3 separate regions of the Homo sapiens genome follow, and regions 1 and 2 are each linked to region 3. Evidence: fine-mapped expression QTL. A gene starts in region 3. Each other region holds a variant in brackets. All regions are shown on one strand. Distances are from middle to middle.

What was found. PIP is the estimated chance that this variant, and not a neighbour inherited with it, causes the effect.
Region 1: its variant is the best candidate, but not a certain one, in a credible set for the expression of ZNF655 in whole blood (INTERVAL, PIP 0.50).
Region 2: its variant is the best candidate, but not a certain one, in a credible set for the expression of ZNF655 in blood mononuclear cells (TOPMed, PIP 0.55).

Annotation. Positions count from the first base shown.
Region 1 is chr7:99,447,840-99,457,227 of GRCh38, reverse strand. All of the region lies in intron 2 of ATP5MF-PTCD1 (ATP5MF-PTCD1 readthrough), which reads left to right. CPSF4 (cleavage and polyadenylation specific factor 4) reads right to left here. Exons shown (of 8, transcript NM_006693.4): 3 at 8,955-9,107; 4 at 6,857-6,952; 5 at 6,433-6,526; 6 at 4,788-4,860; 7 at 3,092-3,262; 8 at 1-796. The coding sequence ends at 728. Among named protein-coding and RNA genes, the nearest start is that of CPSF4, 14 kb to the right of the region's middle. RefSeq lists enhancers at 704-1,506, 4,621-5,181. The variant C/T (reference allele first, on the strand shown) is at 5,061.
Region 2 is chr7:99,238,699-99,249,453 of GRCh38, reverse strand. It overlaps a transcript of MYH16 not described here. Among named protein-coding and RNA genes, the nearest start is that of MYH16, 29 kb to the left of the region's middle. The variant T/G (reference allele first, on the strand shown) is at 6,154.
Region 3 is chr7:99,550,146-99,560,900 of GRCh38, reverse strand. ZNF655 (zinc finger protein 655) reads right to left here and starts at 2,259. Exons shown (of 3, transcript NM_138494.3): 1 at 2,114-2,259; 2 at 206-368. The coding sequence starts at 341. It overlaps LOC105375422 (a long non-coding RNA gene), which reads right to left and starts at 8,736. Exons shown (of 3, transcript XR_927801.4): 1 at 8,417-8,736; 2 at 7,270-7,376; 3 at 4,944-6,165. It overlaps FAM200A (family with sequence similarity 200 member A), which reads left to right and starts at 8,787. Exons shown (of 2, transcript NM_145111.4): 1 at 8,787-9,047. RefSeq lists enhancers at 2,185-2,454, 2,485-2,614, 9,041-9,230.

The DNA.
Region 1 (9,388 bases), 100 kb after region 3:
GAGTGACAGTGTAGACGCCTGATGGGCAGGAGGTAGGCACAGATGATCTGAAGGGGTCATCTATTTAAAAGTCTGCAACTCCAGTTCAACGGACACCTTAAACACTGTCAGGCACGTACCCCAAGAGAAAATTAAGCCCAGAGAAGAAAACCTCAGGCTTGAGAGCCCTGTACCCCTCCTCAACCGCTGCCACCTGGGACCAGGGCCAGCCTGAGGCAATGGGGGCACCTGAATTTGCCCCAAAGGGCTCCCTCATTCAAATCACAGATATAGGCACAGCTTTAGGATTCAGCAGGGCAGGGAGGGAGGAAGCAGGCGTGAGCTGGCCACAGCTTTGAATGACCTACCAGCCCCTGGCGTCACCAAGAACTGGTGTTTAATGAGGGGAATGACCACCGCCACACAGAACTACCTAGCCAAGCCCCTCCCCAGCAGCTGCCTCCCTCCCTGGATGAGGGGAGTTGTGCCGGGAGTCCCAGAAAGGAGGCATCGATGCCCAGCCAAACATGATGTCGACTGCAGGGACCCACAGGACACATGTCCCTTTTTCAAAAAATACTAAGGCAAAATGATAGGAAACTAACAGACGTGGCCCCTCAGAGTGATGAAACCCACGTGTCTGCGGGCCAGCTCGAGCCACAGTCGCGCCAACAAGCGCATGAAACAGTTAAATGCACACTCCCAACAGCGGGGCCCCCGGGCTGCTCGGAGCTGGCTCCAGCTGCTGTCACTGTCCACTGAGAAAGGCCAAGTGCCCTTTGGTGCATCTGTTGGCGTAGTGTCCTTTCTCGCCACACTGGGAACAGCAGGAAGTGGGGGAAGAGGAGAGACAGACAACAACACTGTTCAAATGCAGTTTTCAACTAAGGGAGTGCCCACCAAATCCCAAATCATCCACCAAGTCCCCAGTCGGGACATGACTCTGAAATTCTCAGTGGTACAGAGTTTCTTTCAAATTAGAGGGTGAGGGAGCTCAGGATGGAAAGTGCAGTGGTGCAGAAACTAGCCAGCAACTCCGCAGATGCAAGGGAGAACAAGGCCGCCAGAAGGCGACCTGCTAGCGACCTGCTCTTTCAGGCCCACAACTCTCCCACCTGGACACATGGCCTGCCCAGGGAGGGACTCCCAAGTGGGTAGCAGGACAAAGAGAAGCCCGTGGCACCTGAGCTCCGCCACCCCGTCTGGGGACCAAGCCCTTCTGCACCACAGGCCAGTCACTTACCTCTGAGCCAAGGTCTGGGGTTCCCTGGCAGGAGATGGGAGGGAACAGCATCAGAAGTGTCCCAGCCTCCCCTCCCTTGGGGAGCCACTGCTGGGGACAGAGGGTGGGCTGTACCCAACGTTTTCCCTCGTGGCTGTGACACACCTAAGCTACCTTGGGGACAGGTTTTGATTACAGGATCAGAGAGATGGGACGATGCTTAGACTTGGGTAAGGGGAGCCTGCAGAGCCACATGACAAATCCAGCCCTGACCCTGCCTCATCCCAGTCCTGATTATCCAGGCCCTTCCATAGCTTCTCTTTACTCTATGACTCCTAAAACGGCAGCCTCAAGCACTGAACAAAAGGGTCAGGAGGCAGCTGGGGGCACTGACTCTGTACTGACACCCACCCCTGAGTCCCTGCTGCCCTGAGGGGCTCTGCCCAGTTGGCACCCAACACTCTTGCCAGCTCTATTCCCTGGCTCTGCAATTCCTGTTTTCTTTCTTCTATGTTGGCCAGGATGGTCTCGAACTCCTGACCTTGTGACCTGCTCCCCTCGGCCTCCCAAAGTGCTGGGATTACAGGCGTGAGCCACCGCACCCAGCTGTCCCTGTGTTTTCAACTTTGTCTGATCTGCAGGTGTGACTCTGTATGGAGAGGCTGCCGATGGGCTGTAGGGCTAACATGATGGCTGGGGGAGGGACCACACACCCTGCTCACGGCATCTGGCATGTCTGTCGGACCCCACAGCTGACTCTGGGGAATCCAGGACTTACATGAAGTGTCTCTGACATTAATGGGGTGACAGGCTGTGGACAGGGGCGGTCAGCCCTACCTTTCTAAGGCTCCAGGACTTAAGGGCGCTTGCTGCACAGAAGTGGCCCCGCTTAACAGGCCTGGAGGGTGGCAAGATAACAGCTAAGTCTGCTCTACACAGTGCCCCACTTCCATGCTCTTTTATTTTTTTGGAGACAAAGAGTCTCAGTCTGTTGCCCAGGCTGGAGTGCAGTGGTGCAGTCATAGCTCACTGCAGGCTTGACCTCCTGGGCCCAAGCAATCCTCCCATCTAAGCCTCCCCAGTAGCTGGGACTACAGGCGTGCACCACCACACCCAGCCTGTTTTGTGATTTTTAATCTGGACTCATTCTTCAGAACTCCAGCTGTAGGAATTGTGTGCGCCTTGGGTTGAGAACATACTCTTCAAAGAGTACTGGGGGTTACTCCTGCCACGTGCCAGGGACACACCAATCCTGGGGCGATTTTAGATTAGAAAACTTAGTTTGTAACTTTCCAGCCTTAACCAAGGACATGAATACAGGCCTAGACTCACATAAGGGCCCATTAATAACGTCAAACTATCAAGAGATTTTCCTCCCCTTTCCCCGCTTCCCACAGAGCCAGGAGTGAACAGGACAGTTTTCGAGGAGGTTTCTTGAAGCTCACCCTTCCTGAGTCCCATTTTATGTACTGGGGGAGGGGATGGGGACAGGGGTGCTGTAACCCAGTGTCCTGTTTTCTCGGGTGTGCCCTGCAGGATCCAAGGATGCCCCCAGGACAGCCAGCGGCTCCAAGGGCTCACCCTTCCCTGGATCAGTGTTTCTATTTTGTTCCCGGCCTCTTGGGGGCTTCCCTCACCTGCCTGCAGGCCCCGTCCATTCACTAGGCAGGCGTTCTCACCATCCTTTACCGTGCCTCAGTGCAGTGTGGTAGGAAATAGGACAGTCTCTAGCCCACCACAGTGGATGGTAACTAGACTGTAACTTTATGCTTACAATCAGCAAAAATGAATGTTTTCATTTTTCTCATTTCACCAAACACATGGGGCATGAGGGAATGGCCACTGACGGTAAGGGAAGACCCCACCCTGTCCCCCAGCCCAGGGACTCACCTTGTAACAGGTGACCTGCTCCAGTGGCCGGGGTCCCCGGTTGCCCGCGCTGCTGTTTTGACTCTGCATGACCCCGATGACCTGCGGGGTTCTCTGCTGATTGGGAGAAGAGTTCTGACTCGTTAACTGGATCAAGGAGGACGACCTTTGTAATGGCGGATTGTTACTTTGCTGGAAAGAGTTACACAACACGGTTTTACTGTGGAAAACACGTGCACGCAGACTACCGATGGGGACAGGAAAAAAGAGGGCGGGACTCGTCCCGCAAACGGCAGGAAGCAGGGCTTCCACGACGGCCCACCTCAGGACAGTGGGCAGCAGAGAAACATGTGGTGATGATGGCAGAAGCCACTGCCCGAAAAACACCATGCAGACACACAAAAACGAAAAATAAAATAGAAAACAAAACATCAAAGAGACAAGAGGAGGTCTCTGGGGCAGTGGGGCGAGGGCATGATCAGGCCTTACTTTGGTTTCTGAGGTTCTGGCTTCAGGTCAGGATGAACGCTTGGTTCAGCCAGATGTTTAGCAGCCTACACGGCGAGCAAGTCACAGAAAAACAGTTGGAGCCTGACACACTGAGCTGCGTTCTCGGGCTGAGAGGACCCTCCTCTAGGGAGCCCCACCAGGAGGAGGGCCAGGGCTCCTGGGGTAGGGATTCCACAGCAGGGCCTCCTCCCCACCAGGTGGGCTCCTGGCTCTGGCCCGTAAGTGCAGAACCCGAGCTAGAAAACCCCCAGGTTGGCACGGCTGCACCTACACCTGGAATTCCCGGCTTTCCCCATCAAGAGTTCAATGTGATTGGCGCCTCCACGCAGCTACATCCTCCGCATCCTCTCCTGGCTGTTCAGCCTCTAGCACTGAGCGGGGCTGGTGGGGCTTTGGCAGCCAGTCCAGAGCCCAGCAGGGTAGGAGGTGAGGCATTGGGCTCAGGAGGTGGTTGGGCTTGATGGGCCTGTTGGGAACCCTGCCTGATGCCCGCCCTGCCTTGACGCCAGCCCTTCCTCTTGGCTCAACTCCCGACTCCCATAACCAAACTCAGGGTGCCCTTGGCATTGAGAGGCTGCTGCAGATCCCCATGTGTCTACAGCATTTCCCCCTCTCCTTGTGCTTGAGGGGACGGACCAGCTGCTTGGCTGTGGGGCCCCTCATCTAGAAAACTGGAGCCAGCCGGGCCTGTTCTCGCGCCTCCTCCCAACCTCCACTCCACAGGAGCAGGGGCGGTGCTGGCCAGAGTGGTCAGTTCTGCTGCCACACCTGCTCCTGCCCAGTGGTGTCACCTCAGGCAGGTCCCTCCCTCTGGTAGTCTCGGTTTCCCTATTTGCAAAATAAAGGGTCTGACCCAGGAGCAAGAGCAGCAGACACGGTGCCCAGGCCGCCCTCCATGCCAGCCCCAGGGGCAGACGCTGCTGAACCAGGTTAGCCCCATCTCACAACGGGTGGCCAGTTGCACGGCGCCTGGACTGTGTCTGCTGCTGCGCTTGGCCTTGCTGAGGTTCTAGGGCAAGAGGCCCTCCGTCTCTCGAGGGAGATATACACGGCTTTGCTCCTGACTTTTCTTCGGGAACTTGGGAGACTCCCCTCCTCTCCCAAGTTGTCCAGCGGGGTCTAAGGCAGACCACACCCCTGGGGGACACTGAGGTTCTCGCTGTAGAAAAGGCACTTCCTTCCTACCGAGGAAGGCCAGGCACGGTACCTTTGCTGGAGGCTGTGTCTGCTGCGGCAGTGGGGGCTGCTCGGTGGTTCCCATGGGCAGTTCAAATCGAGGGCTGGTCACCAGCAGCCAGAGGGGATGAGAACAAGAGAAGGAGTGGGGTCAGGGGATGAGAAGAGAAGCCAGGCCATGCTCTTAAATTCCAGCCCTAGGAAAATCACACTCAGCTGCCCCAGCACAAAGTGACTGACACAAGCTGCATGGATGGGGTGGTGGCTGGCACTCAGCTCTGCTCCTGGGAGGCCACAGGAGTGG[C/T]GGGGAGAACAGAACTGACTTGCCTGGGCTCAGACCCAACCCTGCCTACACCGAGCTGGGAGACTCATGGCCAGTGCTTCTCGGAAATGACAAAGGCTGTGCTGGTGCGTGCCTGCTGCGCCACAGGAGCTGTACACAGGGAAGCCCCCCTCCCCGCAGGGTCTTACTCTGGCGTCAGCCCCTCCTCCCATCACTTGGTGACGGTCTGCCCCTGAGCCACCTGCAGGTGCCTGCACTCTCATTCAGGGAGTGAGACCCAGTGACAGCACCGGCCACTTCCCTGCAGTGAGAAGCAGGGACCAGGGTTCCCACAGACCTGGAGACTGTTATCCTGCTGTAGGTTCAGCAGTGTGGGCGAGGCAGCCGGGAGGAAGGGAGGCTTGTCTGTGGCCCCAGTGCCACCCCAGGCAGAAGCCCAGGTCCACAACCAAAGTGACAGATGGGCACTGGGCTCCAAGGACAAGAAAATGGAGCCACAAGAGGGGTGCTAACCCCACAGAGCAAGAATTAAAACCCGTCTTCGGAGGCTCACAGACTTGCTATTTATTTATTTTATTTATTTAGAGATGGAGTCTTGCTCTGTCACCCAGGCTGGAGTGCAGTGGCACGATGTTGGCTCACTGCAACTTCCACCTCCTGGGTTCAAGTGATTCTTTTGCCTCAGCCTCCCAAGTAGCTGGGACTACAGGCACGCGCCGCTACACCTGGCTAATTTTTGTATTTTTAGTAGAGACGGGGTTTCACCATATTGGCCAGGCTAGTCTCGAACTCCTGACCTCGTGATCCGCCTTCCTCTGCCTCCCAAAGTTATGGGATTACAGGCGTGAGCCACCACACCCAGCCCAGACTTGCCTTTGACCAGGTGCCACCACCTGCTACCATGTGCCCTTGGCCAGGGACTGAGCCCTGTGCCTCAGTGTGCTGCTGTGTGAAATGGGTGCGTTCTCTCCTACCCTCACTGTTAGACGACTACTTATTCTATGTGAAACCCCAAGCTCAGGGTTTCCTGAGCCTCCACATGGGAGGCTCTGAAATTCTTTCCTTTAGGGCACAGGTTCTTAACTGGAAGTCCCCAAATTCCCTAAATGATATGCAAGGCTACATGTTTGTCTGTATCCCACAGCTTCCATTACATTACCAGATGGCCCATGACCCAAGAAAGATCAGCTCCTGGTCTAGGCAGAGCCACCTGCGGGCTCAGGAAGCATTGGTGGCCATAAGCAGGGATTACTTCCCCATCTCCTGCCCCCACCCTTGGCCCTGGTACTGACATCACCCAGTGACCAAGGCCCAGTTGGCCCAGGGAAGATACGGAGGGCAGCAGGGCCTGGGCCGGGAGCTGGGGTAGAGGGCGGAGCAGCTGGCTACTCACTGCATGAATTTACACGAGGGCCCCTCCGGGCAGAATCCCACGAGGTAATTCACACAGATGACTCTCCGTGTGTGCCGGTGCCTGCAGAGGGGACCTGCAGAGCCAAGTGTCCGGTCACTTAGATGTCCCCTCTACCAGTTAGAGAGCTGGAGCATGGTTTCAAATGCTGGCTGTCCCCCATTCATGGGAGACGGGGCAGGGACCTCACCTCCCAACACTGGCCTCCTTATCAAAAAAGCGGGTGGACCACCACCCACCCAGCATTCTTGGGAGAGGCAAGGGAGATGAGGAGTGTGAGAAAGCCGCTAGCTGCAGAATGTCAGGTTTTGCTGGGACAGGTAGACCAGCTGGCAGCCTCCAGGGTCGTGGGCAGAGAAGGGAGGACTGGCTTCTTGCCCGGGGCCCAGCCCACCCTGGCACCTACCGTGCTTGCAGAAGCCACGGTCATACCAAGGACAGTCCTTGATCTTGGACTCGGGGTCGATGTGCAGGAAGGGACATTCCTTGTTGCTGCACTCCCCTGCAGGGAAACTCAGACGTGAGACCACTGGGAAGGCCGGGGCCAGGCCCACCTTGGCTTCATCCAAGGAAAAGAGGTTCTGGTGTCCAGTTTTGGCCTGACGAGCCCTGAGAGCCAGGGAAGAGTGTTTCTGAGCCCCAGCTTCCTGTGCAGCGGAGCTGTGATGGAAATGCACCCATTGAGACCAGGAAGTTCCATTCTGATTGGCTCTTCACATCTAAGAGCTGGGACAAGGGTAGGGGAAGCACTTGTGGACCTGGCCCTCTCCAAAGCAGCGGACCCCAGGGACCACCAGCACCAAGAACCGCCTTCCTGAGTAGTTGCCCGCTTCCAGGCTCACCTTCTCCAATCCATGTTTACAACTGTGCTCAAAATCCAGAGGAAATGCAAACTCCTTCCCCAGGCCCCTCCGCAGGCTCAGCCTCTGCCACCCCCCAGCCACATGGGTCCCCCTGTACCAGGACCAGCCCCTTCTTAGTCTTCCGCTTCCAGCTCAGGAATCCCCTCATCCTTGACCACTCAGCCTAGAGAAGGTTCTGGTCACGGTTTCCTTCCTTCAAAGCACTTGTCACAAGCAATTTCTTCTCTGTTCGTCTCATGGCCTATCAGCTACCTCTTTCCCTGGACCACAAGAGTGAAGGCTTCACAGGGCAAGGACCTCTTCACCATTGTCCCTCCAGTGCCTGGAAAGGGGGCCCTCAACCCAATGTCTGTGGTGCAGGTGACAGAAGCTGCAGACAGTGCGTCCTGCACCAGGGCTGTCAGCAAGGAAGGAGCGACCCTCAGGCCACTTGTATAGCGGTGCCTTAAGAGCCTGCCCAGGAGAGCCAGCTGCTGCCTCTGGGGACAGATGGGAGGCCACTGCCCCATCCCAGTGCTGCCCCAGTGCTGCTATGGGCAAGGCATCGGGGGGAACATGCTACATTGCACAATGACAGGGACAGCACTTGGGGAGCTGGGAAGCTTGGGTCCTATTTCTTCTCAGCTTATGCCACCTCCACAAAACAAGCCACAGCTCTCATTGATAAGCCAGCAGGCCACGCCTGATGGGATGCTGAAATAATTAATGTCTCCTCCAACAGCAGTGCTTTGAAAGCATGAAGCATACCCTGCACTCCCTGGCTCCCTGCAGGATTCCAGCCTCCTGCCGGGCTCCCTGCACAGGACCAGAGCCAGCCTCACGCTGACCCACAGAGCTGCTTCCCGGGAAACCTGGAAGTGCAGACCTGAGCGGGGACCCTGGGGACTCCTTCCAGCAGGGAGCACATCTCTGCCAGACTCCGTGCCAGCCCCACTGACTCCACCCGGGCTCCCGCTTCTCCACGCAGGCCACTCAGGACAGCTGAGGCCACGCATTCTCTAAGCAGGGCTCAAGGCAAGTTTGTTGCTACCAGAAGACACATCTGAGGCTGTTATTTTGAAGGGCTATTTAGGATGGCTGAGATGTCACCAGGATCATGGCTCCTGGAGAGAAGGAACCAGCTCGGGCCTGAGAGGCAATGCCCACGCTGGAGGGAGAAGTGGGTTTCAGGGAGAAGGTGGACGTGGACAGAAACCAACCACGGACATAATGCAGCCAGCTGCACAACTCGCTGCTTCCGGGTCACCCTCGTTAGCCTCAAATCCGAGTGATTGAAAGAGCTCCAAACACTGAAGCACTCCAAAGTGATGCGCGGGGCCAGGCGTGGTGGCTCACGCCTGTAATCCCAGCACTTTGGGAGGCTGAGGCAGGCAGATCACTCGAGCCCAGGAGTTCAAGACCAGTATGTGAAACATAGCGAGACCCTATGTCTTTAAAAAAAAAAAAAAAAAAAAAGAGATGAGCAGAAAATAGCCACACTGTCCCCTAAAAGCTGGCTGAGGCTGGCAGGTTCTGCCAGAGTTCTCCTCTGAGAATAGAAAGATGGGAAAAGCAGGCAGAGACAGTGTGGGCACTGAGCAGCCAGCGGACCCCTCTGCACCCTGGTTCTCAGCAGAGCCTCCAGGGCTCCAGGCGCCTTACCGAACTTGGAGTAGAAGTAGCACTCGGGCATCTTGGTCATGTCATACTCATGCAGGAACTCACACTGGTCCCCTTTCTTGCATAGGCCACGCAGCCAGTGTTTGCACACAACTGTCTTCTCACCACTGATGTGGCGAAACGGACACATGCCCCCTGCCGGCAAGATAGGGACAGGGTGTCAGCAGAGAGGCCACCCTGAGCCTGGGGGACACGGCCTGAAGAAGCTGAGGTACCTTCACTTCCTAACTCCTGGAGCCACCTGAAGGCATCACGTCCTGGAAAGGGGCAGAGGTCCCCCTCACAGAAGGCAACATGATTTGAGGTACTACACTGACAGACATTTTACATTTTAATAGTTACTCATGGCCGGGCGCAGTGGATCACGCTGGTAATCCCAGCACTTTGGAAGGCCGAGGTGGGCGGATCACAAGGTC
Region 2 (10,755 bases), 310 kb after region 3:
AATCTTCCTGCCTCAGCCTCCTGAGTAGCTGGGACTACAGGTGTGCACCACCATACCTGGCTAATTTTTTGTAGAGATGGGGTCTCACTATGTTGCCCAGGCTGGTCTCAAACTCCTGGGTTCCAGCGATCCTCCTGCCTCAGCCTCCCAAAGCCCTGGGATTACAGGTGTGAGCCACCACACCTGGCCTCAAAGGTACACACTTCTGTTCGCATTTTGCCCCCTAGCTAGGACAGACAGGCAGGTGGGGAGGTCCTGGGGACAGGGAGGCCACCCTGTCAGTTTAACAGGTGTAGCCTCACCCGCCCCAAAGCCCACTCACTGCCTGCAGAGTTCCAAACAAAGTCCCGCAATTAATTCTAAGAAGGCTTAATTGTATGTGTAAGACACAGGTCTAATTATATGTGTATAGACAGAGATGGAAGAGACACTTACGTGATTAGCATAGACTGATTCTCACGATCTGTAGGGAAGAAAACAAGAAACAGGAAGGTGTAATTAGGAACATTTAGAAACTAGGCATTCGACAATGCCCCAGCCAGTCAGCGCTTCCCCAAATTCCACCCGGCTTAGATCGTGGCCTTGGCTACACTTGGAGGCCAAAATTCAGGATCCTGTGGGATCTGTGGCCACGTGCCCATCCCTGCAGTGTACACCCTTGCAGAAAGGATCAGGAATTTATCAGCCACTCTTTCTACCAGCCCAGAGTGGCCATAAAGCTACCCAGTCCTAAGCAACATAAAGAGAAATGAGGACAAAAATCACAGAGGGCTGGACAGCATGACTCATGCCTGTAATCCCAGCATTTGGGGAAGCTGAGGCTGGAGCCCAGGAGTTTAAGACCTGCCTAGGCAAGATGGTGAAACCCTGTCTCCACAAAACATTAAGAAATTAGCTGGGCATAGTGACGCATTGCTATAGTCTCAGCTACTCAGGAAGCTGAAGCAGGAGGATTGCTTGGGCCTAGAAGTTCTAGACTGCGGTGAGCTAAGATTGCACCACTGCACTCCAGCCTGGGCAACAAAGAACCCATCTCTTAAAAAAAAAATCATGACTGGGCGCAGTGGCTCACGCCTGTAAAGCCAGCACTTTGGGAGGCCGAGATGGGTGGATCACCTGATGTCAGGAGTTCAGGACCAGCCTGGCCAACATGATGAAACCCCATCTCTACTAATAATACAAAAATTAGCTGGGTGTGGTGGCACATGCCTGTAATCCCAGCTACTTGGGAGGCTGAGGCAGGAGAATTGCCTGAACCTGGGAGGTGGAGGTTGCAGTGAGCTATTGCACCATTGCACTCCAGCTTGGATGACAAGAGCGAAACTCTATCTCAAAATAAAGAAAAAAATCACATAGAGGAATCACTATAACATGCAGCAAAGATCATAGAGGTAATGGTTAAGAGTACTGAGCTCTGAGCAAGTTACTTACCTACTTACCTTGGCATCCCACGGGTTTGTGAAACTTAAATGAGATAGGGTGTGAGGTAGGGCTGGTGCCTAGCAAGTGCCCAGCACACTCACTGAGCCCTGGCACCTGGTAGCAGCAGCTGCTGCTCAAAATTTAGCAAAGAACTTCAACTGGTAGTGCAGGGTCAGGGTTAGGATCGGGTATCACAAGGTCTTAATGCGTCTGGAGCCGCAATGGCAAAGGAAGGCTTGTCTCCCGCCACCCCTGCCCCAGCAGAGCCCACCCCGACGCACCCATAAGCATGTCGTGGTAGGCGTTGTCAGAGATGGAGAAGAGGTGAGGCGGCATCTCTGTGCGCTTCTTGCCCTTGTACATGTTAGCCACACGGGCCCCGTAGATGGGCAGCCACTTGTAGGGGTTGACCGTCACGCAGAACAAGCCCGAGTAGGTCTGGTGGGAGGGAGGGAAGATGGTCAGCTGATTTTTCCTCCTGGTACCCTCTTCCCCCAGCGGAGTTCCCTTCAGGCCCCAGCTTATCATAGAGCAAGCTGTGAAGAAGGCAAGCTTTCTGCCAGGTGTGGTGGTTTATGCCTGTAATCCCAACATTTTGGGAGACCGAGGCAGGTGGATCACCTGATGTCAGGAGTTGGAGACCAGCCTGACCAACATGGTGAAACCCTGTCTCTACCAAAAGGACGAAACAATTAGCTGGGCGTGGTGGTGCACGCCTATAATCCTAGCTACTTGGAAGGCTGAGGCAGGAGAATCGCTTGAACCTGGAAGGCAGAGGTTGCAGTGAGCCAAGATCGTGCCACTGTACTCCAGCCTGGGCAACAGAGTGAGACTCCGTCTCAAAAACAACAAAAACAACGAAACCCAGCCTTCTGGAGGCAAAATCTTATGACTATCTGAGTCTGTGTTCATTAAGCTAAATGAGGCTTCTCTTTAATATATATTTGTTTTTGTTTTCTTTTGGTTTAATTACAGACACTCCTCAACTTAGGATGGGGTCACATCTAGATAAACCCATCATATGTTGAAAATATCGTATTGAAAGTCGATTTATGATATTTTCAACATACGATGGGTTTGATCATAAATCGAGGAGTGCATTGAATGTGTATTGCTTTTGCCCCATCGTAAAGTTGGAAATCATTAACTTGAACCATTGTAAGTTGGGGTCCATCTGGATTTGAATAGGTAACACTGTCACTGTGGTAACATATATACTGCAGAAGGTCCCTCCACTTGCTCCATGCCCACCCCCACCCTCACCACAGGTAAATGCTGGGCTAGTTTCTTTTACTCCCTTCCATGGTTTTTTTTATTTATATATATTTTGTGGATGGAGTCTCACTCTGTCACTCAGGCTGGAGTGCAATGGTGCCATCTGGGTTCACTGCAACCTCTGCCTCCCAGATTCAAGCAATTCTCCTGCCTCAGCCTCTTGAGTAGCTGAGACTACAGGTGCACGCCACCACGCCCGGCTAATTTTTGTATTTTTAGTAGAGATGGGGTTTCGCCATATTGGCCAGGCTGGTCACAAACTCCTGACCTCAAGGGATCCACCCACCTCAGCCTCCCAAAGTGCTGGGATCACAGGTGTGAGCCACTGCGCCCAGCCTATAGTACTGTTTTATATCTTGCTTTTGCCACTTAATATATCTGGCTTTCCTTGAGAGTCTATTGAGAATTTCTGGGGTGATTCAAAAGCTGTGGAATCTTCACTGTGTGGATGCAGTTCCCTGCTTGTGGCAGCTGGGTTTGACCACCTGTTTTTTACCTGTTTTTTTCTTTCTTTCTCTTTTTTTTTTCTTTTCTTTCTTTTTTTTTTTTTAGAGACAGAGCCTTGCTCTATCACCCAGGCTGGAGTGCAGTGGTGCCATCATAGCTCACTGCAGCCTTGAACTCCTGGGCTCAAGCGATTCTTCCACCTCAACATCCCACGTAGCTGGGACTACGGGCATGTGCCCACTAAGCCTGGATAATTAAAAAATTGTTTTTGTAGAGACGGGAGTCTTGCCGTGTTGCTCAGGCTTGTCATGAACTCCTGTCCTCAAACAATCCACCCACGTTGGCCTCCCAAAGTGCTGGAATTACAGGCATGAGCCACTGCGCCCAGCCTTGACCTACTCTTAAAAAGAGACCCCAACTTTCTTTTCACTCCAAGATTGCAATTTTGTAAGAAATCACCCTGTTTTAAAAAAAAGAACAGAAAGGCCAGGCGCAGTGGCTTACACCTGTAATCCCAGCACTTTGGGAGGCTGAGGCAGGCGGATCACAGGGTCAGGAGTTCGAGACCAGCGTGACCAACATGGTGAAACCCTGTCTCTACTAAAAATACAAAAATTAGCTGGGCGTGGTAGCGCAAGTTTGTAATCCCAGCTTCTGAGGAGGCTGAGGCAGGAGAATCCCTTGAACCCGGGAAGCGGAGGTTGCAATGAGGTGAGACTGTGCCACTGCACTCCAGCCTGGGCAACAGAGCGAGACTCCATCTCAAACAAACAAACAAAAAACCCCAGAAAAACCAATTACATCATTAAATAAATTAAGAGCAGGAAGAATGAGTGAAGACAGGAAATGGCCAAATCTATGAATCTTAAATTTCTCTTCTCCTTGCTGGACAGTCACATTGACCTCTAAAGCATCCACCAAGTACTTGGTTTCAGTTCAACTTTAAACCCTTCCATTTTGAACCAAGTAAGAATAACTGCTCCCTATCCACCCCTGTCCCTGCCACCAGCTCCTCCTTAGCATAACTGGGATATGTTGAATTTTCAAAAGGAAACTTATTAAGTACAAACTGATCCACAGGAAAAAAGGCAAAGAGACGATGAAGGAAACCCAGTGGAACAGCTGAGAGTATGACACACAGTGTCTCATCCTGGGACACCAGCCATGGAGTCACTCTTCCCCTCCAGCCTGTCTCAGCCGTGGGGTGGGGGCAGACAGCATCCTGGAAGCCAGTTACCTCCCTGCTGTGGTCAGGAGGAATTGAGAGAGAAGCAGCTGGGATCATGGGAGCAGCCCTTGCCAGCTAGAGTTGTTGCATTAGTGGCTCTATTGAGGCGCTTTAATGTAGGAGGGGACTCCCTGCCCTGGTCTCTCAGGCTATACTCCACAAAGCCTGCAGTCCCTTGGCCCAAAGTCATGATGTGGTCACCCAGGAGGAACAAGGGCTTGCGGGCAGAGCAGCCCCAGGTAAGCCCTGGTCCTGAGCTTGACCTTTGAGCCTGTACCTTGACATTCTCAGCCCAGGCTCTAGGTTCAGCCGGGGGTGGGTGTGGCTCTTTCTAGACCTGGGGTTCAAGGATGCCCTGCTAACTTCCAGACCTAGCAAATATCTTCAAGAGATTTCAGAGACCTTCCAGCAACACCTGGGGCTATGGTACTACTGGGGCCTGAATCTAGAACCACAGTAGTAGTATTAAAGGAGGATGAATCTGGGGTCACAGAAGCCCTCTTGACTATAACCATAGACCCAGGGAAGGGGAACCCCCAGCAGCTCCTGACCTGGGAGTCAGGCTGCACCTCACCTATTCCTACCAGATAAGCCTCTTTCCTTTTAAATAAAGACATCTAGAGAGGCAAACACCAACACGTCCTTAGACAACCCATTTTGGGAGTTAAGCTGCAACACCTTCAGGAAATCATCTTTCTGTCTTAAGATTTCAAAGACACTCAGGGGACTGATTGTAACTCACTCTGGTCATCATGTCAGACAAAGTGAAACTGAATTTCTTCAAGGATGCAGTTGGTTGTCCTTCCTAAGTGCCTCAGGCTACAAGTCACATTTCCTCAATGTTTGTTGGATGGATGGGTGGATGAGTGTTTTGATTAATGAATGAATGGATGGATATTTGGATGTTTGGATGGGTGGATGAGTGGATGGATGGATGGATGTTTGGTTGATGGATGGATGGATGTTTGGATAGGTGGACGAATGTTTGGATGTTTGGACTGATGGATAGATGTTTGGACGTATATATGTATGGATCGATGTTTGGATAGGTGGATGAATAGATTGACGGATAGATGTTTGGATGGATGGATGGATGGATGGATGAATGTTTGGATGTTTGGGTTGATGGATAGATGTTTGGATGGATGGATAGATACTTGGATGGATGGATGGATGTTTGGATGGATAAATGTTTGGATGGATGAATGTTTGGATGGATGGATGTTTGGATGGATGGATGGATGAACGAATGGATAGATGGATGAATGGATGGATGGATGGATGGATGAATGAATGGATAGATGGATGAATGGATAGATGGATGGATGGACTTCTAATAATGGCACATGAAGTCACTAGGGGAAAAATGATGTTTTGATTTGAGAGTTTGAGGAAGAGGGGAGGAACATGAGGAGGAAGATTTTCGGGTGACAGCCTCAGCAAAAGCTGCTCACGGAGATGGTGCCATTACTGAGATGCCGAAGGCTTTGGGTGGAAATTCTAACATGTCAGAAACGTGGTCCCTGTGCCTTTGTCTAAGTCATAATGTGTACTGGGAGCTGGGGAGGGTGGAGTAGCCAACCCCCTCCTCAACAAAAGAAAAGCAGAAGATCTACAGCCACTCCTTCCTCCCCCCACTCACCCCATCCCTGGCACTCACATAGATCCTCATGTTGGTGTAGCGTTGGCGCAGATTGTCTAGGACACTGGCCTCATTCAGGAAGGTCATGTCTGCCATGTCACTGGCCTGGTAGAATTTGGGTGGGTTCATCTGCTGGATA[T/G]CATCCTTCTTCACAGTGAGTGTCTGGGGGGGTCAAGACACAGCAGCACAGGCATCAGGCATGGGGCATGGGGCATCTGGCCCAGGTCACCACATACCCTCTGGAGTCCCAGGAGATGGAGTGGAGCATCCAGTGGACCCAAGTCCTGGTCCAGCCACATCCCCCTGTGTGTCCTGGGATGGGGAGGCACTTCTGAGGCCAATGCAGCTTCAACTGCCTCCTCTCTGAAGTTGAGATGACAGTAGCCTCCTTGGCAGGTTGCTGGGAGAATTATATGAACTTAAGTGGAATCATGTAAAAATACCTTAAAAACTATGACGTTCCCTCCCTATGTTACAGAGACCTCTGGGCTCTGCTTCTCTTCCAGCCAAATCCATCCTGATAGATGATCAGAGCTTATTCTTTGATCCCATGGACACTTTGCAGAGATGTGACTCTTGGCTCTCTGCCTTGAGAGTTAGCGGTGATTTCGAAATAGCGATGAGCTTTTCCATTTCTCTCTCTCTTTTTTAAAGACTAAGTGCAGTAATGAGAAGGGTGGGGGGAAGAGTGGAACAAGGATTTTGATCTGTAACTGACCATGCACAATCAATTGAGATAACTCACTACCTTCAGACCAGCCAAACTTTTCCTTTTTAAATTTTTAATTTAATTTTATTTTTTGAGACATAATCTTGCTCTGTTGCCCAGGCTGGAGTTCAGTGGTACAGTCATAGCTCACTGCAGCTTCAATCTCTTGGGCTCAAGCCATCCTCCTGCCTCAGCCTCCCGAGTAGCTGGGACTACAGGTGCACACCACCATGCCTGGCTAATTTTTAATTTTTTTTTCTAGAGACAAGGTCTTGCTATGTTGCCTATGCTGGTCTTGAACTCTTGGCCTTCAATGATCCTCCCATCTTGGCCCCCAAAAGTGTTACAGGTGTGAGCCACCACATGTAGCCACTGTTCCACTTGAAAAAAAGACATTCCCCTGCTCCCTCCAAGCCACCTTCAAGGATAAAATTGAAAGCAAGCAAGAAAAGAAGAAAAAAAAGAAACCAGCAATGAGCATTCATCAGTAGGTGTGTTCGCGCCCGTGCCATGTGGGCAGATCTCTTCCCCATGCTGCACCCCAATTTCTTCATCTATAAATGAAAACTAGGCCGGGTGCAGTGGCTCATGCCTGTAATCCCAGAACTTTGGGAGGCCGAGGTGGGTGGATCACCTGAGGTCAGGAGTTCGAGACCAGCCTGGCCAAAATGGCGAAACCCTGTCTCTACTAAAAATACAAAAATTAGCTGGGCGTGGTAGCGCACACTTGTAACCCCAGCTACTTGGGAGGCTGAGGCAGGAGAATCACTTGAACCCAGGGGGCGGGGGTTGCAGTGAGCGGAGATCATGCCGCTGCACTCCAGCCTGGGTGATAGTGCAAGACAAAACAAAACTAAACAAAAAAAAAAAACTAGTGCCAGCTCTTAAGAAGCTCCAGCATCTGGGATCAAAGCTGAAGACATACGATCTAGAAAACAAATACCTTTTGGCTGCCTGCAACCTTAGATGTGAGGCCTGAATCCATACTGGGATTTCTGGGACTTTTAATAACTTATTAGTACAATAGGCAGATAATTTGAAATCTTGACAGTTCTGGAAAATCCACCCCCACTCCCCGTAATGGTTACCACGCCCTTAGTAAACCAAGCTGTTTTTTGTTTGTTTGTTTTTGTTTTGTTGTTTTTTCTGAGACAGAGTCTCACTCTGTCACTCATGCTGGAGTGCAGTGGCGTGATCTCAACTCACTGCAACCTCCGCCTCCTGGGTTCAGGCAATTCTCCTGCCTCAGCCTCCCAAGTAACTGGGATTACAGGCGCAGGCCACCATGCCCGACTAAGTTTTATATTTTTGGTAGAGATGGGGTTTCACCATGTTGGCCAGGCTGGTCTCAAACTCCTGACCTCAGGTGATCCACCCTCCTTGGCCTCCCAAAGTGGTGGGATTACAGGCGTGACCCACCATGCCTGGCCTCAAGCTGGGTTTTATTCTGAATTCATTTCCAGGGGTTTCCAGATCTCTGGTCCTCGTCCACGTGCAGACACTTCGCTTTCAGCAGAGGAATGGAGAACTTGGCCTTTATTTTAGGAGCCAGGGAAGCCAGCGCCACAGGCTCCATCTTTTCTGTCCCAAACCCGGCTGGCCGGCACTGTCTGCTGCAGATACTCAAGGAAATTGTGTTGTCCTTAAATGTGGATCCAAACTTAGATGCACCCTGGGGCTCCACTATCATCACCCATCACTTCTCACGACACTGCAGCACTCTCCTCTCTGAAAACTGTTTCTCCTGGGAATTAAGCTTGACTTTCGTTCAAATCCATTTCCACCCAACTATATCTTTTTACCACTGCTCCTCTCGAAGACAGGCGCAGAGAAAAATACAGCTGTTGCCAGTTCTGATCACTGAGGTCTCTGGCTTCCTTTTTTTTTTTTTGAGACAAGGTTTCTGTCTGTCACCCAGGCTGGAGTGCAGCAGTGCAATCCTAGCTCACTGCAGCCTCAGCTTCCTGGGCTCAAGCGATTCTCCTGGCTCAGCCTCCTAAGTAACTGGGAGTACAGGGATGCACCACACCTGGCTAATTTTTTGTAGAAACGGGGCCTCGTTATGTTGCCCAGGCTGGTCTCAAACACCTAGCCTCAAGCGATCTGCCTGTATCGGCCTCCCAAAGTGCTGGGATTACAGGCTTGAGCTGCCGCGTCTGGCCTCTGACTTCTTTTAATCAAGAAATTAACCAGGAATGGACCTCGCAGGTGCTAATATATTTATTGCTGAACACACATTGCTCTGTTTTTTGTTTTTGTTTTGTTTTGTTTTGTTTTCTTTGCTTGCTTGCTCTCAATTTTATCCTTGAAGGCGGTTTGGAGGGAGCAGAGTAATGTCTTTTTTCTTAAATGGAAAAGTGGCCGGGTGCAATGGCTCATGCCTCCCTCTTGGCAGCCCACCATGAAGGGATGGAATGGTGACATAGAAGGGGCATGGGCATATGAGCCAGATACAGTGGGTTTGAATCCAAATTCATCATTTGCTATTTTTGCAACGTACACAGGTCACCTAAAGTGCCCTTGATCCTCAGTTTTCCTTCTCTGCAAAATAGGGTCAATAAATCCTACCACATAAGATTGCCAAAAGGATTAAACAAAGTGTCAAGTGCCTCACCAGGGGTCTGCCAAGAATACAAGAGACCCTGCCCTTACCCATTTAAAATAAACCAAATTAAAAAAATTCTAATAAAAATTGTTATTATTTTCTAAAAATAAAGATAGGGTCTCACCAAGTTGCCCAGGACAGTCTCAAACTCCTGAGCCCAAGTAATCCTCCTGTCTTGGTCTCCCAAAGTGCTGGGATTACAGGTGTGAGCCACCACGCCTAGCCTAATAAGCCAAATTTTCTATCCATTCTCTCAAGTCATATCTCATAGTCAGACGTAGTGTGGGCCAGCAGAGAGAAGGGTGGGTTGGTAAACCAGCTGTCTGGGGGGAAGTGTCCCTGATTTACAGCATATTCCCATTTCCATGGTATAAATACTTCCATCACGGCTGATAGCAAGCTACCCAAGGTTTAACAACTGGCTGTAAAATCCCTCATTGTTTAGTGTTGGGGTCTTTGCAAACCATCACAAGCCAGGTTGGATCCCTGCAATCCACGATAAGCCAGGTTGAGTCCCTGCAAGCCATCATTAGCCAGGTTGGGTCCTTGCAACACGTTAAAAGCCATCGGAAGCCATCACATCCAGCACACCACCCCCATGCTCCAAGAGACCTGGGAACCACCATCTGTTCTTCATGCAGCTGAAGAGCTCACCCAGTGAGCCAGGGTGTTCTGTGCCCTCTCTCATGGCCCTCATGCCACCAGGGGCCATGGCACACAGTGACACTGCTCATAAGTGACATGCTCACTCTCATGCTTAGAAAATAGCTTCCACTTGAGAGCTGTTTGAGACATCAAAGATAAGTAACTCTCACGATCATCCCTTACGCACGGTACTGTCTTAGAGTCTATGAAGTGCTTTCATGTGATCTGTCTCGGAATCTCTATTGTGATATAGCTCAGAGAGGGAATGCGTCTTGCCCAGGGCCACACAGCTTGAGTGTAGGCGAGTCTGGATTTGACCCCAGCACATGGGACTCGGAGGCACCTGCTCTTTCTGCCACCCTGCCTTCTGGGCGGGAGCATGCCTAGAAAAGGCCTGGGTGCCTGCCACTTGGTTTCATCCTGGAGATCGTGCCCCACTCACCTGGTTGGTGATCGTCTTCACGGTGACTTGGTCACCCTGTTCAGACTGGATCTCCCCAGCGACGAAGCCTTCCTTCTCATCTTTGACCCAGCAGGACCTCTTAATGTCATAGGGCTTGTTCATGGCTTCAATCCTCTCCTTTTCAGGAGGTGCCAGGAAAGGCATAGGGTCCACATCGTCCCCACACTCCCCTTTGTACCCACCAGGCATGGTGGCTTGGTTGAGGATGGAGCAGGAAGGAGCTGAGGGCAGGAACCAGGACTTCCCTGGGTGCTGTAGGGGGAAGCAGAGACAAGCTGCTGAGGCTCACAGGCTGAAGTCAATGTCCCGAGAAAGACAG
Region 3 (10,755 bases):
CTTATTTGAGAAAGATGAGCTATCCTTAATAAAGGGGCTCAGACTAGGACTGAACTGAGTCACATCTGCCCCCTCTTTCATTCCTCCCTCTAGGGACCATGTTCTTATTCCAGTTCTTGGCCTCTCTCAAACCAGGCCCAGGAGCCCCCTCGGGAGCCCCTCCGCACTCCCACTCTCCCAGACGGAAGTGCTTTCTCTGCCTTACCCCCAGTGAGTCCCTGTTCCATGTCGGTGTCCTGCACAAACTGAGGCTCTGGGGACAGACACTCAGACTGGGTCTCCAAAGACTGAAACTGGACCCTTGGTGACCCTGCTGCTTCCTGGGCTGGTATTTCCTCCATCACTGCTCTGGAGGACAATGACCATCACTGCAAGGTAAGATTAAGAGAAATTACTGTAATAAGTTAAAGCATTTCATCATTTTATATCGTCAGGACTTTGCAAAGGATCTTACACACTATGGATATTCAATAAAAATTAGTTGATAATGATTAACCACCCTAAATAAGTAACAGAAAAATGGGGCCAGGCGCAGTGGCCTGTAATCCCAGCACTTTGGGAGGCTGAGGCGGGAAGATCACTTGAGGTCAGGAGTTCAAGACCAGCCTGATCAACATGGTGCAACTTCTTCTCTACTAAAAATACAAAAATTAGCCAGCGTGGTGGTGCGGGTCTGTAATCCCAGCTATTCGGGAGGCTGAGGCAGGAGAATTGCTTGAATACAGAAGGCATACGTGGCAGTGAGCCAAGATTGCACCACTGCACTCCAACCTGGGCAACACAGTGAGACTCCGTCCCAAAAAAAAAAAAAAGAAAAAAAAGAAAAAGAAATATGGATATGCTTCAGCTTTAAATACTTAAGAACCAAATCATAGAAGAGTCTCTAATTTGGAATTTGTGGCATTAAAAAAATTAACACGGTACAATTTAATAGTGTAAAGCTTTCTGTGGAAACTTTAAAATATTTAAAATTGGCCACGTGCGGTGGCTCAAGCCTGTAATCCCAACAGTTTGGGAGGCACAGACGGGTGGATCCCTTAAGCTCAGGAGTTCCAGACCGTCCTGGACAACATGGTGAAACCCCGTCCCTACAAAAAAAAAAAAAAAAAAAAAAATTAGGTGGCCCAGGCCTGTAGTTCCAGCTACTCCAAAGGCCAAGGCAGGAGAATCGCTTGAGCTTGGGAGGTAGAGGCTGCAGTGAGCTATGACTGCGCCACTGCATTCCAGCCTGTATGACAGCGTGACAGCCCACCTCAAATAAACAAAACAAAATATTTAAAATTTACAATCGTCTTTGGAGGCTCAAGTTGGTGCCCAGAGAAAAATGCTAGTTATGATTGCTCATTTTATTTTAATTTTGTTTTAGCAGAGATGGGAGTCTCGCTATGTTGCCCAGGCTGGACTCGAACGCCTGGCCTCAAGCGATCCTCCCACTTCGGCCTCCCAAAGTGCGGGGATTACGGCGTGAACCACCGTGACAGGCCCGCGTTTACGTAAATAAACTCATTTAAATAAATAAAACAGCAGGCCCCCTAGGAAATGTCTTGGTAACACCGTCAGCCCACTCCGATTTACTACACGGGCTTGGCGAATAAAACTCCACTTTTGGGGTCAGGCCCTTCGCTAACTCAGACCAGCTAGACCGGCCTTTTCCCGGAATCCTGAGAGCAACGCAGGTAAGAGCTGCGGTTCGAACAGGTTTGAGCGGCGTCCTTCAGGCCCAAGGACGCATGAGGGTGCCGTCCCCCTCCCACCACCCTCGCCCTGGGCCCCTGCCCGGCTCCCAGCTCGGTCCTCAGAAGGCCTTGCCCGGCGCTGCCCTCCTCCCACTTCCCTTTTAGGCCAAGGCAAAGTCCCAAAAGGACCAGTGAGGACATACAGACCAGCTCGCACCAGGGCACGGTCGCCGGCTCCTGACGGCGGGGCCCTCGGTCCGCGAGGTGAATGAACCAGGGCTGAAGAGAAACAGGCCCTCCTCGCACCCGGGCCTCCGCGCACTCTCGGGGAAGCGAACTACCGTCGGCCGCGGCCGGACGCCGCCTCCTTCTACTCCCGTGAAGGCAAAACAAGCTGCCACCCCGCTGCGACCCCAAAACGGCTTCCGGGTACTCACCGAGGGGAGGGGCGGGCCTGGCCGCTGTCCTGTCACCTACACACTCGCGCTCGGGGCCACCACAGCCTCTCCCGGGCCGCTGTAGACAGCCCCGAGGCCGGCGCTTCTCGGTGGCACTTCCGGCGACGGAGTGCAGGGTCCCGAATGAGGGCCCCCCCTCCTCCGCCCAGGCATGAGGGTCCCGGATGTGGGTGAGAGCCCCGGATGAGGGTCCCGGATGTGAGTGAGGGCCCCGGATGTGAGTGACGGCCCCGGATGAGGAACTCGGAGGAGGAGCTGGGCCCGCGCGTCCATGATTCGAAGGCTCGTTTTCGCAGCTTTTCCACGTCTTTTTCCGGTCCCACTGCCCTCCATGCTAACTCACTGGGCGTCTCTAGCCGTTATACCAACAATGACTGCGACCAGTGTTGGGAAAGCGCCCCCTGGGCCCCTCCCTGACGCCAGCCCATCCTTGAGACTCCCTGCAAGGAGGCGGCCCGACCCAGTGGGTGCGTGTCGTGGGGTGAGGAGGAATGGCCGACCTAATGGTCCCGCTTCCGTGAGTAGCACAGGGGTGCCTGCTCAGAGTGTAGTACAACGCTGACAAGTAGAAGGCGAGGATTGCGGGGCCTGGGTGAGATGGGACCCACTAAGTTGTGGGATCGAAATCTCAGTAGGTCCTTGGGGAAAGCGGGGACGGGAGGGGAGATGAGCAGATTGGAATAGAACCGAGAGAGACGGAGGAAACTGACAGTTGCGTCCCTGGTGGGAAGACTAAAATCTATGCAGAAACAGGGATAGGCAAAAGCATTGTGCACAAGCGGGACAGGCAGAGCGCCGGGACAGAAACCCTTAGGACATTCTGACACCTTGCTGAACCTGGATCCTTACAGAATATGTCTTGTAGGTGAAGCTAGATCTGCAAGGCATAGGCAAGCCTCTTAGAGAATCAGAAAAGTGATTTGGAAGGAACTTCAGCTGTTACTACTTTGTTTAAGCAAATCAAATGCTGTTCTTTAATGTTACTGGACGTTTCAAATTAAACACAAGAAAACCTGAAGTGTGGCATTTTATATATTTTTTCAAAATGTATCAGCTTCTTGGAGATTCTGATATTCCTTTCCTCTCTTTATCCCTAAGTATCATTTATCCAACCTAAATTCATACTAGGACACAATCTCTCTAGTCTGCAGTGCCCGTCACAGTGGAGTCAGGATCGGAGAAAGAAAATGCACTGCTTAGTCCATTTCATGCTGGACAGCTCCAATTAGAAACTTTTCCTTGTGTTGAACAGAAATACACCCCTGGTGATGTCTATCTATTGTTCCTGTTGACAGGTCCCCAGGACAATAGATGACACAGTACTTCTTCCTCTTCATAACGGCCATTTTAATATCCTAGGAGAGCTAAAGGTTTGGAGTTCTTCCTGAGTTGCCATTTCCCCACCTAGAACCCTTCACAGGTTGTACCTATTAGCAATGTGATGGGAAACCATTTCAGCAGCAAAGGTGAGTGAGCTATGGCAGTGAGGCACATCGCGTCCAAGTTTTAGCTGACTCAGGCAATTGGCTCCAGTGAGAGGACCACAAAAGGTACCCACTTAAAGAGGCCACTTCCCACCAGTACTCATCAAAACATAACAAAGTGTTAAGAAACAGCAGCTGCTATTTTGCTTTTGAGCAAAATTTTCTTTTAACAGTTTGCCAGATGACAGAGGTGGAAACAACTCAAAAAATTGTTACCTTTTTTCGTTTTTGTCTTTTTGTTGTTGTTGAGACAGAGTCTTGCTCTGTCGCCCAGGCTGGAGTGCAGTGGCGCGATCTCAGCTCACTGCAACCTCCAGCTCCCAGGTTCAAGCATTTTCCCTGCCTCAGCCTCCAGAGTAGATGGGATTACAGGTGGGCACCACCACACCTAGCTAATTTTTGTATTTTTAGTAGAGATGGGGTTTCACCATGTTGGCCAGGCTGGTCTCAAACTCCTGACCTCGGGTGATCCGCCCGTCTTGGCCTCCCAAAGTGCTGGGATTACAGGCGTGAGCCACTGCACCGAGCCTGTTTTGTTTTTTTTAGTGCAAATTAACAAACTGATTCTAAAGTTTATATAGAAATGCTAAGGATTTAGGATTGCCAAAACAATTTTGAAAAAGAATAAAATTGGAATACTTGTATTTTTTTAAGATTTTTTTCCTAAAGGTACAGTAATCAGGATGGTATGGTATCAGCATAGAGACAAATAGATCAACAGAGCAGAACAGAAAGTCCAGAAATATGAGGTTGAATTTCTTAAAGAAAAAAAAGTCCAGAAATAGATCTAGATACATACAATAGCTGATTTTTTATAAATTACTAAGGTAATTCTGCATCTAGCTAAGCTGAAAATTAGGCCGAGGATCTGTTTGTAACAGTGACAGTAATGTAAAGGAGACCAATTGTGCAGACTCGGCAGGTCCCCTGAGTCAAAGTCGTGGCTCATACAGGGAGAGGGTGGGATCCTGAGACCTGTTCTCTGTCACAGTGTAGTCCGCAGGAACTTTACCCAACCATCATGATGGTCCATATATTGATGACAAATGCTAGTAGTACCCAGTGAGCAGCAAGTGACAAGGGTCATAAATATCCTAGTAAGACTTCTTACTAAGGCAGTACAGAAACCTGAAGATATGGGCACTTATCAAATGGATGAAGTTTTGGTGGGGCCCAGTGGTTTGGGGACATCACCCAAAGGTAAAAGAAAGTTGTTCCACCTTGCACCCTCTAATCCCAAAAAAATTGGTACAGGTCCTGGTGGGCCCCTTTGGATTTGGGAGGTAGCATATTCTGCACCTGAGAAAACTGTTCCAACACATGTATTAGGTGACCTAAAAAGCTTCCACTTTTTATTTATTACTATTTTTTTTTCTTGACACGGAGTCTTGCTCTGTAGCCCAGGCTGGAGTACAGTGCCGTGATCTCGGCTCACTGCAACCTCTGCTTTCTGGATTCAAGCAATTCTCCTGCCTCAGCCTCCCTAGTAGCTGGGATTACAGGCGCCCGCCACCATGCCCAGCATTTTTGTATTTTAGTAGTGGAGGGGTTTCACCATGTTAGCCAGGCTGATCTTGAACTCCTGACCTCAAGCAATCCACCCACCTCCGCCTCCCAAAGTGCTGGGATTACAGACGTGAGCCACCATGCCTGGCCAGCTTCCACTTTTTATTGGGGCAAGAGAGCACTCTATAGTAAATCCAAGCAACAGTGCAAGCTTACTTGCAAATTCAGTGGTTCCAGAAATATCCTTGATGGATACAGGTGCTGTATGGAGTTGCTGGCAAACCCCAATAAGAGTGTGCATTCGTGTGCTAGGGCTCCTATAACAAAGTACCACAAACTGGGTGGCTTAAACAACAGAAATCTGTTGGTTCACAGTCTGGAGGCTAGAAGTCAGAAATTAAGGTGTGGTTCCTATTGAGGCTGTGAGAAGGAATCTGTCCATGCCTCTCTCCTAGTTTCTGGGGATTTGCTGGATATATTTTGCATTCCTTGGCATCGTAAGAAGCATTTTCCCAGTCTTTACCCTCATCTTCATTTGGCATTCTCCCTGTGTACTATCTCTAAACTTCCCTTTTTTATAAGGATACCAGTCATTAGATGAGGGACCCACCCTAATCCACTATGACCTCATCTTGAAGTAATTACATCTGCAATGCCTCTATTGCCAAATAATTTCACATTCTGAGGTATTAGGGGCTAGAACTTCAACCTGTTAATTGGGGATGAGGTGGAGGTACAATTCAACCCATCATAAAGAGTCACAGCACAAATACCTAAGATTCTGGAGCAAGGTCATGCCTTCTAAGGCAAAAAAACAAAACCCACGTTTCCAAACTCCCAGGTCAGTTACCTCTGCTCTACTGCCACCTCTCCCATAAACTTACTCCTATGGCCTTATAAAAGTTCCCTACAACTAACTGATGGAGACAGAAGAGCCTTGGCCTCTGCACAGATTGGGGATTGGGTCAGTTCAGCATGTTGGCATCTTCCAGAAACAGACTGTTCTTCATTACAGCCCCACTCGCGTTGCCCTGAAGCATACTGGTGAAGAAAAATTATCTCAGTGAGCAATGGTACATTTGGTCACCCATGCCATATTTTGGAGGAGGTAGCCTAAGGTAGGGATATGCATTGACTCCTAGGCAGTGATGAATGGCTTGGCTTGTTGGTTAGGGACCATCTTATTGTTTATGCAATAGGCTTATGAACAGAGACCATGGTAGCAGGGATAGAGGCTGTGCGTGGTCCCAACAATATGGGCTACCTCTTATTTTTCTTTTTTTTTTTTTTTTTTTTTTGAGACGGAGTCTCGCCCTGTTGCCCAGGCTGGAGTGCAGTGGTGTGATCTCAGCTCACTGCAGCCTCCACCTCCCAGGTTCAAGCAATTCTCCTGCCTCAGCCTCCCGAGTAGCTGGGACTACAGGCACACACCACCGTACCCAGGTAATTTCTGTATTTTTAGTTGAGACGGTGTTTCACCATGTTGCTCAGGCTGGTCTCGAACTCCTGAACTTGTGATCCACCCACCTCAGCCTCCCAAAGTGCTGACATTACAGGTGTGAGCCACCGTGCCCGGCCAATATGGTCTACCTCTTACCAAGGCTGATGTAACTCTCACCATGGTGGAGTGTCCAGCCTGCCAGCATTAGAGACCAACACTGAGTCTTAGAGATACCAGCTACCACCAGGTTGAGTGCATCAGATCCCTTTTACCTTGGAATGGGCATCAATTTGTTCTTACCAGAATTGATATATGCTCTAAATGAGCTTGTCTTCCCCAACTACTTTGCCTCCAGCAGCACCACCATCTGAGAGCTTACAGGGTGCCTTATCCATTGACATACCTGAAACTAAGGAACCCACCGATAGCCAAGGAGGTGTGACAGTGAACTCGAAGCTACAAAATTCATGGTGCATACTCATCATCCAGAAGCAGCTAGCCAGATAGGGTTTTGGAATGGCCTGTTGAAGACTGGGCTAAATTGCGATTAAGATGTAATGCCTTGCAAAGTTGGGAGCAGTTCTTCAGAATATGGTATATGCGCTGAAATGCATTGGGCCAAAATGGATATATAGTATTGTGTCTCCAGTAGGACTATGTGCATACAGGAGTAGCCTCTATTACTATCACACCCAGCCACTCACCTGTAGAATTTGTGCCTCCTCGCTCCGAAATCTGGAGCCAGCTGGGTTATGATCCTCATTTCCAGGAAGAACATTTCCTCTAGGAAACATTAAATCGTGCCACTGAACTGAAAACAGAATACCACCAGGCCACTTTGAGTTTCTTGTGCCAGTAGGTCCGTAGGCAAAGAAAGGAGTCGTTATAGAGATGCCTACAATTCCTGCCACACACACAACATAAATACAAAATCATATACCCAGTCAACTGCATTCAGTAATCTGCCTTCCTGGACCCTTTAGGCACTTCAGTGTAGGAATGGGGACGGGTGGGGAGGAGAGACTTTAGACAAAGAAGAAAAATACAGTGTGTAGCAATGTAATGACTCTTAGCGATGACTTGGAACCCTGGAAGGAAATATGAGGATGTATCTGGAGGAATAAGTTGAGACTATGATGTCATCACGGAGGACTGTAGGTTAGAAAGCCAGCCAGTGATAAAGGAGCAAAGATTGGATTTGACGGTGCCCTAGGAGGAAAAAAAAAAAAAAAAAAATATATATATATATATATATATATATATATGTGTGTGTATATATATATATGTGTGTGTATATATATATACATGTATATATATGTGTATATATATGTGTGTGTATATATATGTGTGTATATATATATATGGAGCAAAGATGCACTTAAGTGGATTATTGAGAAGACTCGTGGGTAGGTAGAAAATGGCAACCATAGCAAGATCAAACCCCCTAAGGAATGGAGCATTAGTGAGGGTCTAGAAGGTAATTCGGGATACCACGTAATCATAGGCTCTGTATCAGGTAGCCGTTCCTTTTGTAGGCTTTTATCTTATTGGGCTGTACCACAGACTTGCCCAGAACTTTTAGAGTCATGCCCCAGCCATTCAAGGTCTCAGTTACTGTTTTATAAAAGGTGAAGTTATTCTTGATCTAATCATAGAAGCCCTAATTATTACAATAACACTTGGACAGCAAAAACGCCTCAAATTCAACTTATTTCACCGTTGCTAATCTGAAAACTCCCTGGAAACATAAGGCAAACTCAGAATTTTATAACTATCTAGTGTTGGAAAGAACGTCTGTTGCCTATAGATCAAGTATTTGAAAATACTGCCCATTCAACTGGCAATACGTACATAATCAGCGTCTCAAGAGACAATCCCTTCGATTTGTGAAACCATTTATTCTTGATCTTCCTGTCTCCACCCTCGTTTCATTCAGCTCCTCTGCCACAGACAATCACTATTTTTATTGTAACTATTACAATTATTGTCATCAAGAAAAATAGAAGGAACATATAAATATCTGAGCAGGGCGGTATAAAGGGAAATTCATCCCTTTTTCCCCGCCCTGTGCACCTCCTCGGAGCGGACAAGCTGAGGAGCAAGATCCCCAAACCCGAGATTAGAGCCCTACACAGGGATGCAAAGTCCTCCCGCGATCCTAGAGAGGACCCCGAAGCGGAGCGCAGCTCCGGAAGGCGGGTGTGACGCACTTCCGGCTTTTGTGACGCTTTCCCTGGGCTCTGAAGGCCAGGGGGCTTGGATGTGAGTCTAGTGCTCCTGGTCCCCAAAGTCACAACCCCTTCTATCCCAGCATCCCAGACTTCTCCGGGCGGGGACAGAGTTGGACGTGCATGGCTGTGTCCTGCAATCCCCTCGCCACGACCGCCCGGGACGGAGTGGAAGCGGGTCCGTGCCCCCGTTCCTCGCGCCAGCCTCGGCGGTGGCAAGCGCTGTCCCCCAGCAGAGGTGTCCCTGGATACAGGTGGGAAGGGAACGAAGTTTTGGTTTCCGGATTGGAGACACCCCTGGGACTGGAGAGAGGCGGTCTGCGTGTCCCTTCTGGACCCCCAGTCCTGGTGTTTTACCCCAAAGACGCGCGGACAAAATGACCCCAGTCAGATATCTGTGCTCCCCAGTTGTGCCCACTGGTTTTTCTTGTGGTGGGGGCTTTTCTGGTTTCCTGGGTACCCCGAGTTGTAAAATTCTGGCGATCTTACACGATACCAAGTGCCATTGGCCTTATAATTTGTTTTATTCGGATGGGCTCGTTAAGCCAGTGTCCGCGGATGATATGTTCACCCTCAAACCCAGTACCATTATGGTGGTGATTAGAGTGAAGGCCGGGCGCAGTGGCTCACGCCCATAATCCCAGCACTTTGGGAAGCCTAGGCAGGCGAATCGTTTGAGGCCAGGAGTTCTGAGATCAGCCTTGCCAACCTAGAGAAACCCTGTCTCTACTAGAAATACAGAAAATTAGACGTGGCGGCACACGCCTGTAATCCCAGCTGCTTGGGAGGCTGAGGCAGGGGAATCGCTTGAACCCGGGAGGCGGAGGTTGCAGTGAGCCAGGATCGCGTCACTGCACTCCAGCCTGGGAGACAGAGAGAGAGAGTGAGACTCTGTCTCAAAAACAAAAAAAGAGAATGTTTGAAGCCTACTGAATAAAGAAGTGATTTGGATATAATAGGAAAAGCTCATTTACACTTCACCCTTTCCTTTCAAGACTTTAGGAAGGGGTCTTTTTGTTTCTTTGGTTGGTTTTTTTGTTTTTGAGACAGAGTCGCCCAGGCTGGAGTGCAGTGGTGCGATCTCGGCTCACTGCAACCTCCAGCGCCCGAGTTCAAGCTTCTCCTGCCTCAGCTTCCTGAGTAGCTGGAATTACAGGCGCCTGCCACCATGCCCGGCTAATTTTTGTACTTTTAGTAGAGACGGGGTTTCGCCATGTTGGCCAGGCTGGGAAAATGAACTCCTGACCTCAGGTGATCCGCCCGCCTCGGCCTCCCAAAGTGCTGCAATTACAGGGGTCAGCCACCACGCCCTGCCAGGAAGGGTTTTAAATGAGCAATTTCGGACATGGGGGGTTTTCAGTTGTGGGAGGTATCTATGCTTGACATCGAGGGATAAAGGAGAGAAGGGAATTTGTGGACGGTGCAGCGGACCATTGGGGACTGGTACCAGTTCTGCCATTGATGTTCTTGGATGAAACACATAGACCCACCAAGTCTCAAATGTGTCCTAAGTAAAGTAAAATAGATTATCTCAAGGTCTCTTCCAATTTTGGAATCTGCCGATAGACTGAATTTAACATTCAGCTAAGCAAAACCTATGGCCCCACATTCATTTCCATTTGTGCCACCAACATACAGAAAGTTACTTGCATTATTGAGAGAGGCTAAGTGACACAGTACCAAAGAAAAGGGGTTCGTTGGCCAGGTGCTGTGGCTCAGGCTTGTAATCCCAGCACTTTGGGAGGCCGAGGTGGGTGGATCACGAGGTCAGGAGTTTGAGACTAGCCTGGCCAACACAGTGAAACCCCGTATCTACTAAAAAGACAAAAATTAGCTGGGCCTGGTGTTGGGCGCCTATAATCCCAGCTACTCGGGAGGCTGAGGCGGAAGAATCACTTGAACCCTGGAGGCGGAGGTTGCAGTGAGCTGAGATCGTGCCACTGCAGTCCAGCCTCAGCAACA